2 separate regions of the Homo sapiens genome follow, and region 1 is linked to region 2. A link means that fine-mapping ties the variant in region 2 to the expression of a gene that starts in the linked region. Tissue or cell type: skeletal muscle. Region 2 holds a variant in brackets; the other region holds the start of a gene. All regions are shown on one strand. Distances are from middle to middle. Region 1 holds the start of PAXIP1-AS2 (PAXIP1 antisense RNA 2). Region 2 has its middle 25 kb from the start of PAXIP1-AS2.

Region 1 (5,374 bases), 25 kb after region 2:
GGTATTGTCTTGTATTTTGAAGATGTTTCCATGGGTATATTTAAATATTTATTGGAGTAGCTGAGATGATAGTTTCTATATCAATGGAGGACACTGACCACAATGGATCAAGTACTGTCTTTAGTACATTTTGTAATTCTTCATTAAGCAATAATTCATTGTCTTTCATGGCAATATGGATTGCAATTGGATTAGATTTTGAAAATTTTATTAAAATATCTGTTGTGTCTCAAAGTTGAGTTTTATAATCTAATTTTAAATATATTTCCTTCCTTTGAGAGAAAGAAATGTGGGTATCACATAATTCTAAGCAGTTTCTTCCTGTTGAATGGATGGGGTCTGATGGAACAAAGAGGAGGGCATGAGTTCCTTGTAACGAACACTGTTGAAAGGTTACAGGCTGAGATTGGTATGCCAATACAGGAGGATTGTGATGCCCACCATTTGAATTCTTTGTTTACTGCAAGGAATGGGACCTTGTACCAAGATGGGATTAATTCCAGATAATGTGGCTCCAGTGTCAATAAGTGCTTGTGTTAGTTCTCCATTTATAATAATTTTTATTTCTCCCAGTGTTAGTAAGGAGGAAATGAAAGGCCCCTTTAAGTTCCTTGGAGCACCCCTGTTTTCTTTTCTGCCTCCACTGGTTAACATTCTTTCCTTTTTCATTTTTGGCAACTCTTTTGAAAGTAATCATGCTTTTTGCAAAAATTGCAAAGTGGAAGGTTAGGTCCATTAGGGAGTTTCTAGGGGTATTGTGAAGGCCAAAATTGTGTGAATAGTTGTTTTAATTGTAAATTCATAATTGTATTAGCCTCGCTCTTTTGTTTGGCTTCCCTCTCTCTTTCTTCTTCAGTTAAGGTATCAGATAACCGGTCAATGAGACTGACCAAATCATGAGTATCAGAAGTGGCCCAACTTTGTCTTTTCATTGTTAGTTCCAATTCATCTAACTCATTTGTTAAACTGGAGTCGAGTATCATTTCGATGATTAGCACAGCTTTCTTCGGATAAAACTAAATATTCTTTAAAATTTTTTCCACAGCCCTCAAAGTATATTACTGACTCATCTGAATTTTGTTGATATTGTATTTTGTTCCAGTTGACTACTCTGAAAAACTGAGGAGATAGCCTGATGCAAAGCCTTTGCTGTTCTTCAAGCCTGTCTATGGTCCTCTTCTGAACATTTATGAAGATCCCTAACAGATTTCTCCAGTGAGCTTTGTCTAGCCAGCCTTTAGCTTTAATTTTTGCTACTAACATGTGAATCTGTTGCTAGAAGTCAGAATAACTAGGGTCATAAGCTTGGATATTTAATTCAAATTTCCTAGCAAAACCAATAGGAACCTGGTGAAGATCAAGGAATTCTTTTAACTATGCCTGTAAGTTTGATCATGATTGATAAAGCAGGTTCCCCTCTACCAGATGCTGGATGAAATGGAGCCAAACCAGTGGGAGCAGGAGGAGGGGCAGGAGGAGGAGGAGGAGAAGGTCAATCAGGGCTGGGTAGTTCTGACAAGGAGGCTTAGAGAGACAGGGGAGCAGGGAGAGAAGAAGACATTTCAGTGTTTTTTAAAATTCAGTAATGGTTTTAGAGTGCTTTTTATTTTCTTCCTCTAAGGGAAGAATTCTGTCAAAACCTCTTTTGGATGCTTCTGGGTGCCATTGGAAGTAACTCTCTTAATTATTTTATTTGATTCCATAGCTGGCTTTTTAAAATTGTGCATATAAATAAACTAATCTAGCTATTTCAAAGATAATTCTCTTTGATCATTGTAATTTAGGATCTTCTTAGGTCAAATAAGACCATTTCTCCAACTATCGACAGGAGGTGGCGCCATAAGTCTTGTACATAAACCCCGCTGGAGTTTCCAAAGGTGCATTGCTTAATGAGGGCTTGGTTATAGATGGATAATTGCTCATAATTTGGATTCTCTTTTAAAATGCCCAAAGGCTAAAAGGGAAAAGTGTTTGGGGTCCAGTGTGCTGCTTAGTAGGGATTATTCCTGGAGGTATCACCTACAAGTAGCTTCTTCCCTCTTACCTACCTCAGAGAAACCCAGACATTTCTGGGAGTTCAAGGCACTGGGTGACGAACCCCTTGTGTGTTGTGTGCCCCGGGGGTTAAGCAGCTCTCCCTGTGAGTTCTTCTCTGGGGTTTGTTGTGAGCTTCCACACCCTTGTGTTACCTCCATTGCCTAAGGTGCCTTTCAGCTGGGAGAAAGAGTCCTTTTTGTCTTCAGCTTATCACGTCCTCATTCCAACCTTTTACAAATTTTGGGTGACTCAGGAAGAAACTTTAAATCTCAATGTTAACCAAGATCCAAAGCCTGGCTGGTTTAAAGCCACAAATTTGGCTTAAGCCACAAACATTCACTTTCTCCTTTTACAAAGAAAACTGCTTTCTCTTTAACCAAATGTCAAATGAGAGAAAAGGTTACAAACTTGAGCAAGTAAAAAAATGTCCAATGAGAGAAAAGGTTACAAACTTGAGCAAGTAAAATGTCCAATGAGAGAAAAGGTTACAAAAGAGCAAGTAAGACGAACGAAAACTTAACCTAATAGAAAAGTGAAACCACAAACCTGCCAATAGCAGAATCTTTAGAGAAATGACGCGAAACTCCTGCCTTAAAGCCCTAAATGGCGGCTTCAATATCAGTCCCACTGAGCATGAAATTCATTTACTTAAATAAAATCTGAATCTCAGCCCAAACCTGGGAGATTCAAAACCTGAGAGCGGTCTTACCAAAGACGCCCGTATGTCTGGTGAAGTCAGTTGGATGCAAGCAGTTTGTGCTGGTACCAGGGCCCCAGCTACTGATGAAGTGGCAGGAGTCCACAGAAGCCTACTTCGAAGTTCCCGGGGCTTCCAGGGGAGGTGAGAACACAAGTGATGGGAGAGCCTGGGGAGGGACTGTCTGGTGAGTAAAGGTTGTGCTGCTCTGTGGATGAAATGTCTCTGAGGTCGTAAACATCTCAGAGCCGCCTTCGGGAGAACGGGTGATAGTCATCTGGGCTGATGTCACCTCCAGTGTCCTCTCCTGTGATCTGTGTTAATCCTCCCAGATTGACGAGATTCCTGGGGAGGCGATTCATGACAGCTGAGTTCCTTTTGGAGGATCCGTCTTCAGGCAGGTAAGGGGAGCTCAGAGGAAACCTCTGCCTGCATCCGCTGATTCCCAAGTGCCCTCAGCTCACAGGGATCAGCACTCCCAAGTGCCATGGGGGTGGCATTTCCTGAACTCCTTCAAAGCAATAACAACAGGCTGGGCGTGGTGGCTTACGCCTGTAATCCCAGCACTTTAGGAGGCTGAAGTGTGAGGATTGCTTGAAGCCAGGAGTTCAAGACCAGCCTGGGCAACATAGGGAAACCCTGTCTCTACAAAGAATTAAAAGAAAACTTAGCCAGGAATGGCAGTGCACACATGTGGCCCCGCCTACTCGGGAGACTGAGGTGGGAGGAGTGCTTGAGCCAGGTGGTTGAGGCTGCAGGGAGCTGTGATTGCACCACTGCACTCCAGCCTGGGCAACAGAGTGAGACTCTATCTCAAAACAAACAAACAACAACAACAAAAGTGAAACAATAACAACAACTTTTACAAAACGGACATTTGGGATCTACATGCCACACTCCTAAATGCGTCTCTTAAGCAACAGGTGTCACAGTCTTAAACCTTGTCCTTACCCTCTTCATTCTAGGCACCTGTTTCATTCCAGGTAGGGCTTCCTCCTGGTTTCCTAACACAGCGGGTTGAGATGAACAGCAGAGAAGGACACTGCACACCTCTGCAGGGTCTCCCCTCTGGCCCACCAGCCCTCCCTTCTCCAGCAGTGAAGACCTCACTATGTCATCCAGGCAGGAATAATATAGACAGAAACCCCAGAAGCCCCAAAGCTCTGAAGCCTAAACCACAAGCCCCACGAAGTTCCACAGGGCCCACTGGGCAGAATGGCGTGAACCTTCAGGGTTTGTTTGGTTTTATGAACCATTTAGTCATTCTTTCTCCTTCCTCCCATGGTAGCACTAAAATACATTCTCAGGCTCCCAGGTATATACAGGGGGGACGGAGAGGCGAGGATATTCCTGATTGGAAAACAAAACAAAACCTACCTTTACTAATCTCAATATACAGATTAGGCTAATCAGATTAAATAATTCTGAAAGTTTTCAAAATGTCATTGTTAGATTTTTCATTATTTTAGAGAAGAGGTCTTACTCTGTTGCCCAAGCTGGACTCAAACTCCTGGGCTCAAGCGAACCTCCTGCCTCAGCCTCCTGAGTAGCTGGACTACAGGTGCGCACCACCATGCCTGGCTGAAATTGGTTTTTATTGAGGGTCTTGATATGAAAAAAAAGTCTTTGAATCTTAATGTTACTTTTTCATTTCTTCTTGGCAACCAAAGCATCCATGTTTTAATTTTTCTTTGTTTATTGTTGGCTGGAGAGCACTGCCTTCCTCATGTACCATGCATCAAGCCCTCTCCCCAGCCTGAAGAACACCATGTTCCTCTTAGCGATCATCAGTAACAAGGCGTGCCACTCGAAGAACTACAAAGATAAGGGTTTGGGGTTTGTGCTGGGGAAAGCTCATGACACTAGCTGCAGGAATAGAGGACTGAGCCTCCCAAGTCCTGGAAAGCAGAGGGAGGATGCCCCGCTCTGATTTCCTCAGCACCTTTGCAGAGCTCTTGGTCTCCTGCCTGTGCCCTGCAGGCCTGACTCACCTTCCTCTCTGCACGTGAGACTCTGCACACCTCCTATCGTGTTTATTGACGCATGGCAGCCTCAGCCCTCCATTTCATGTGACCTCCCAGCTTTGCTCTCTACAACACCTAACCCAGTCAGTTTCTGTGTCCTAATTCAAAATTGCTGGGAGAAAAAAAAGTCTGATTGGCATTTGAGTTTGAGAACGAAGGCTTGAAAGAGCCAGTTTGAAGAATGGGAGCAAGGCCTGGCTAGAGCACTGATCGACAAACTTTTCCTGTAAAGGGCTGGGTAGTAGATATTGCAGGCTTTGCAGGCCATGAAATCCACGCTGCATTGTAGTGGCATGCAAGCTGCCATAGCCAATCTGTAAATGAATGAGTGTGGCTGGGTCGCATTAGCATTTTATTTCCAAAAATAGCAGGTGGCCAGATTTGGCCCAGGGACTATAATTTTCCAATTCCTGAGATACTAGAAACAGAAGTGTTTTGTTGTTGTTTTAACTAACTCTTTATTGAAGTACAGCAAACAAAAGTATACACATTATAGCATTGTATGAACTATCACAGAGTGACTACACGCATGTAACCACCAACTGTGTGAAGAAAACATTGCCTGCATCCCAGAAACTATGTATGCACCCTTACTAGTCACTAATCTCACACTCCT
Region 2 (5,374 bases):
ATACTCAGCCAAGTAGCAGCCATGAACCTCAGCCCAAGGAGAATGCGTTGACTGCATTTTCACCTTTGTTACTACTGGAGTCTCAGAACATCCTTGGGAAGGACATGAGGCAAGTAACATAACTATTCCAATTTCACTGATAAGGAAGGTGCACAAAATTTAAATGATTTGCCCAGAGGATGTAGCTGGTTTTTACTTCAACCAGCTCTAAAACCCTAATTCCCAGCCAAAGGCTTTTCCATTGGAAGGAAAAGGGAAAATTTTTCATTTCCCAAATTAGTTATCCCAGTAGATCAAGAGACCCTTCAGGAGACCTAAAGTCAACTTGTGAAGATTCACAGTGTTAATTTCTGCTTGTCTGAACTTCCACAGTGATGAATGGAGCCACAGCCAGTCGTGCTAAGCTGATTAAATACGCACTTTGCTAGCCACCCACCATGATGCCAACTCTACCCGCTTTTTTTAGTATTCCTGTCGTGTGGAGTCCACTCCCACATGGAATCAGGCTTGACCCCTGTGACTACAGAATACTGCAGAGGTGACAGTGCGTGAATGCCAAGGCTTGGTCATTAACGGTACTGCAGCTTCTGTCTTTCTCTCCTGGCCAGATGGCTCCTTCTGTGGGAAGTTGGCCACCATGTTGCAAGGATGTTCAAGCAGCTCCACGGAGAGGTCCATGTTGAGAGGAACTGAGGCCTCCCACCAGCAGCCAGTGCAATTCTCCAGCCATGTAGGGGCGCCACCATGGCAGTAAATCCTCCATCCTCTGTCAGTCCCACCCATGACTATGGCCACAGCTGACATCTGATTGCAACCTCAAGAGAGACTCTCAGACAGAATTCTTGGCCAAGGCACTCTCAGATTCCAAATCTAAAGGAACTGTGAGCAATCGTAAATGACTGTTGTTTTAAGCCATTAAGTTTTGGAGTGATTTGTCACACAGCATTCGATAACTAATACAACTCACAACCACCCCCAAAAACTCTGCCAGCACCCGCATCAGTGCCTCTGCAGGACACCCCTTTCTGTAAATATGGGATAGGCTGGGGCATAAGTGACCCTTGAGAGTGGGCGCAGACTCTGAACCGTCTGACATAAGTCACTGGTTCCTAGTCCCAAGCATCAAATCCCTGCTACATTGGGAAGGGTTCACAAATGGCAGGAAGAGAAATGGTAGAAAAATTCCTTCAGGCACTAACTGGAGTCCACCCTAGCACTACCACCCCTCTTTCTTAGAAGTGGAACCCCCAGTTTTTAACTGGGCCTATGGTCATCCAGAATAAAAACTGTTCCGGCCTCTTCGCTGAGCCTAACTTCTGGCCACTGGGATGTATGTGACATGCCACATGGCAGCTGCCAAGACACTTCCTCAAAAGACAGCAGGGAAGCATCCTTGGTCTCATCTTCTCCCTCCTCCCTCTGGGTTCCTGAAGACCCAACAGAGCCTTGGTCCACAAGGTGGAAGCTCCGAGCCAAGGGTGACAGAGAGCAAGCAGATGCTGCCTGGGCTCCTGGCAGGTGGGCACACTATACCAGCCCTGGTGTCCCTCATCAGAACGCTCTATCTTCTTTATCTTGGCCTTTTCTGTGTTTTGCAGTCAAATTTGATGCCAGCTAGCACACTGCACTGTGAGGGCTGAATTACACAGGCCAGCGGCTTGATCCTAGGGCCCAGAGCCTCTCACTGCAAAACGCTGTGTAGTTGCCAGTTATTCAGGACAACTAAGCATTTGCATTGGACACAAGGCAGATGACTATGCATCCATTCACTCCAAAGATCACAATAGCCACATTAATAATAATAATTAACATTTATGAAAAGCCTGCTCTATATCAAGCACTGTGCTAGCATTCTGCGTGGATAAACACATTTAATCTCTGCACAATTAACACATTTCAATCTACAACTACCCCATGAGGTTGGGTTACCATTATTTACGTTTGGCGGACAGGAAACAAAAGGAACAGAGAGACGCCGTCACTGGCCCCAGATAACAAAGCCAGTCAGTGCTCGGGAGGGAGTCCTGCCACCACCAGCTCCCTCTCCAAAGGGAGGCCCTTACCAGGTCCCAAACCCGAGTCTACCCACGTTTGGGCACAGCAGATGAACTGTGTGACCTCCATGTGTTTGAGTAATAGGCTTGGCCTTGGCAGGTTGATTTGTTTGAGCTGAAAGAGAACAAAGAAAGGCCTTCTGCCCAGGTGCCTGGAGAGGTGAGCAGGGGTCGCTGGTCTGCGAGAGGCTCTCCAGCAGGAGCTGAAGAACTCGTTTTCTGGGAGACAAAGGGAGGGCTGGCTTGGCCTGGGAGGCTGGGGGCACTCTCTGTGGCCCAGAGGGAGCGCCATGCAGTCGGTCCAGAGAAGCTCTGAGATCTGGGGCCACCTGGGCAGCCCAGGGTCTGCAGCAGCCTCCTGCCAGTCACCACGGCTGGAACCTGGGGGCTGTGGAGGGCTCCGAGGTGGAGGATGGTCCCATGTGTCTGGGTGAGCAGCAGACACCACGGGAGCAGCTGTTTGACCTGAGCCAGTCACACAAAGGAGTCAATTTCCAGCTGTGTGGGAGCCTGAGTCCAGGCACACTTGGCAAGGAGCCCTTGGTGGCCAGCGTCCTAGCCTGAGATGGCAGGGGGCAAAGCTGGTGAAACGTAGGTCGTCAGTGGTGGTGAGACCCACTCTCACCCAGAGGCCGGCAAGGTCAGTGAGCAAGATTATCCACTGTAGTTCGTTCAATCGGATTTCACTGCCAGTATTCCCTGTGGAGAAGAGTGGTATAATCAACATAATTTTTTTTTTTTTTTGAGACGGAGTCTCGCTCTGTTGCCCAGGCTGGAGTGCAGTGGTGCAATCTTGGCTCACTGTGACCTCCACCTCCTGGGTTCAAGTGATCCTCCTGCCTCAGCCTCCCGAGTAGCTGGAACTACAGATGTGCGCCACCACACCTGGCTAATTTTTATATTTTTATAGAGACGGGCTTTCACCATGTTGGCCAGGCTGGTCTCGAACTCCTGACCTCAAGTGATCCTCCCGCCTCGGCCTCCCAAAGTGCTGGGATTACAGGCGTGAGCCACCAAGCCCAGCTCATAAGTATATAAATATGATGAATTCATTGACCAGTAGAGAAGCAGGACCCATGAATGTCTCCAAATTCTGTTTTCAACTGCACCAAGACTGCTGGAGTTTTACGTCTCAGATATATTAGCAGATGTGTGCTTTTCCAAATAACCATTTTTACGGAAA[T/A]CTTAATATTGTCTGAAAGTCAGCATGATTGTCCTGTGAATGAGATTTTTACTCGCTTGGCGGAAGGAGGCAGAATGAATCCACTGCTTGAGATCCTCTTCTATGACTGCAGCAACTGTGGGCTTTGAGGACCTTGAGCTGGACTTAGATGACCCTCTCAGTGGTATGCTGGCATCAGCCTTCCTAATAGAAAACAAAAGGAGAGAAAAACAAAAGAAAAGAAAATCCCAACCCATAGAGTCTGTCGATCTCCGTGGTGTAAGTGTTTCCACTATGGCCAACGTCAAACACCCAAGCTGCCATCACTGAAAATGGAGTTGGGAAGCAAAGGGCCAAACCCCTTCCCGCCCATTTCCAGTGAGTAGGTGTGACACTCTCCATCAGGCACCACTAACTCTGGCTAACACCGGTTAGTCTATGGGGCAGGGCCTCTAGGAGGGCCAAAGAATGCAGCACCAGGAGTTGACAAACCCACACCCTCCATCCTGGACAGGTTTCTTCTGTGGCATTGGGCAGGCACTTCCACAAATCGAAACTGACTTTTTCCCACCCAAATGACAAGTTCCCGGGGTAAGCGAGACGGTTTATTTCCCCCATACCTCACCCCTCCGTCCCCCATCAACAGCGCCTGGCTCACGTGGCAGTTCTGAGCAACTGGAGAGACGTGGACAGAATGAATTGCAAGAGGATGTGGGGGGTCCTAGCTCCATGTTGGGCGGGACCACCCCGCATTTCCATGCTCCTGGAATCCCACCCTGAAGCTGAGCTCCACACCCCTGCTTCTAGAGCACTTTCAGAGACCGCAGCCTCAAGGAGGTCTACTGATTCAGTAACCGGCAGAGGCTGTCTGGGGAGCACGGTGGAAGTTAAACGCCATGAAGAGAGCATCCAAGGCCCCCAGACTCTGGGGTCAGGAGTCTCACACCACCACGCTGCTGGCTCAGGCATAATTTATCAGGCTTCATACATATCAGAGGAGGCCGCAGCTGCTAGCACTCCACGCCAGCCCTGCAAACATTTCTTCAATTATTCAGTCACCAGGCACAGGGAGCTAGTCCACTGCTTCAAAGTTACATTGTTATAAAGTAACAATTACAGCAAGGTTTAGGGCTGAGCTCCCAGGCCTGGACACTCCGCCCCACAACCCTGACCACCCCAGTCTTTCTCTCTCTCTCTCTCCAGTCGTCTCTCTCTTTCTCTCCTCTCTCTCTGTCCATTCTCTCTGTCTCTGTCCCCATCTTTCTTCTCCCCTTCTCCCTCTCTTTCTCTCTCCTCTTTTGTCTTTTCCCCATCTCTCCCTCCCTCCGGCCTTGTATCCTTCCTTGTCTCTCCCCGTTGCCTCCCCTCCTCTTCCCTCCCCATCTGGGTGGGTGGTCAGGCCTTGGTTAGGCTTGGCCATCCAGAGAGGAGGGGAAGCCTGGTCGAGCACCCAGCACTGAGCAGAGCAGACAGACTTGGCGAAGGAGGTGGGAGCAGGGATCAGGAGGGAGGGTGCAGGGATGCCCCTGCTGTAACAAAGCATCCCAAACCCGAGACTTCAATAACGGGGTTTTATCCTATGCTGCTGGAGACTGAGCTCCGAGATCAAGGTGTGGGCAGGGCCAGGCTCCCTCTGAGAGTGCTAGGGAAGGGCCTGTCCTCCGACACTGTGCTCTCCCCCAGGGGATGGGGCGGGGGGCTCCCTGGATTGTGGCTGGGTCTCTCCACACTCTCCGTGGCACTCTCCCTCTGTGCGAGTCTGTCTCTGTGTCCCAATTCCCCCTTTTCATAAGGACAGCAGTCATATGGAGTTAGCGCCCACCCTGCTGACCGCATTTCAACTTGATCACCTCTGGTCAGACCCTGTCTTCAAGGAAGGTTCCATTTGGCGGTGCCATGGGTTAGGGCTCAGCAGATGTTTTGAGGAATACCACCATTCCAGCACAACAGCAGGGCCTCCTGGGTGGGAGGAGGAAGGAGCAGCTGGGGCGGGAGGGCCTGTGTCTCTGAGGCAGCTTGCGGCTATGGGGTAGGTGGCCCCGTGAGTGGACTTGGGACAGGGCCTTGCTGTGTCTTTGGTCCTCCTAGGAAAGGCCTCCTGGACTCTCCGGGGCTCTGCCCTTCCCGATTGTCAGCAGTGCTACGGCCTGGTCTGCAG

What was found.
Region 1: it holds the start of PAXIP1-AS2, and the variant in region 2 is fine-mapped to the expression of PAXIP1-AS2 in skeletal muscle (GTEx, PIP 0.97).

Annotation. Positions count from the first base shown.
Region 1 is chr7:154,925,890-154,931,263 of GRCh38, forward strand. It overlaps PAXIP1-AS2 (PAXIP1 antisense RNA 2), which reads left to right and starts at 2,628. Exons shown (of 8, transcript NR_024476.1): 1 at 2,628-2,878; 2 at 3,067-3,135. RefSeq lists enhancers at 2,709-2,768, 2,789-2,888, 3,039-3,258.
Region 2 is chr7:154,901,125-154,906,498 of GRCh38, forward strand. No RefSeq gene overlaps it. Among named protein-coding and RNA genes, the nearest start is that of PAXIP1-AS2, 25 kb to the right of the region's middle. The variant T/A (reference allele first, on the strand shown) is at 3,238.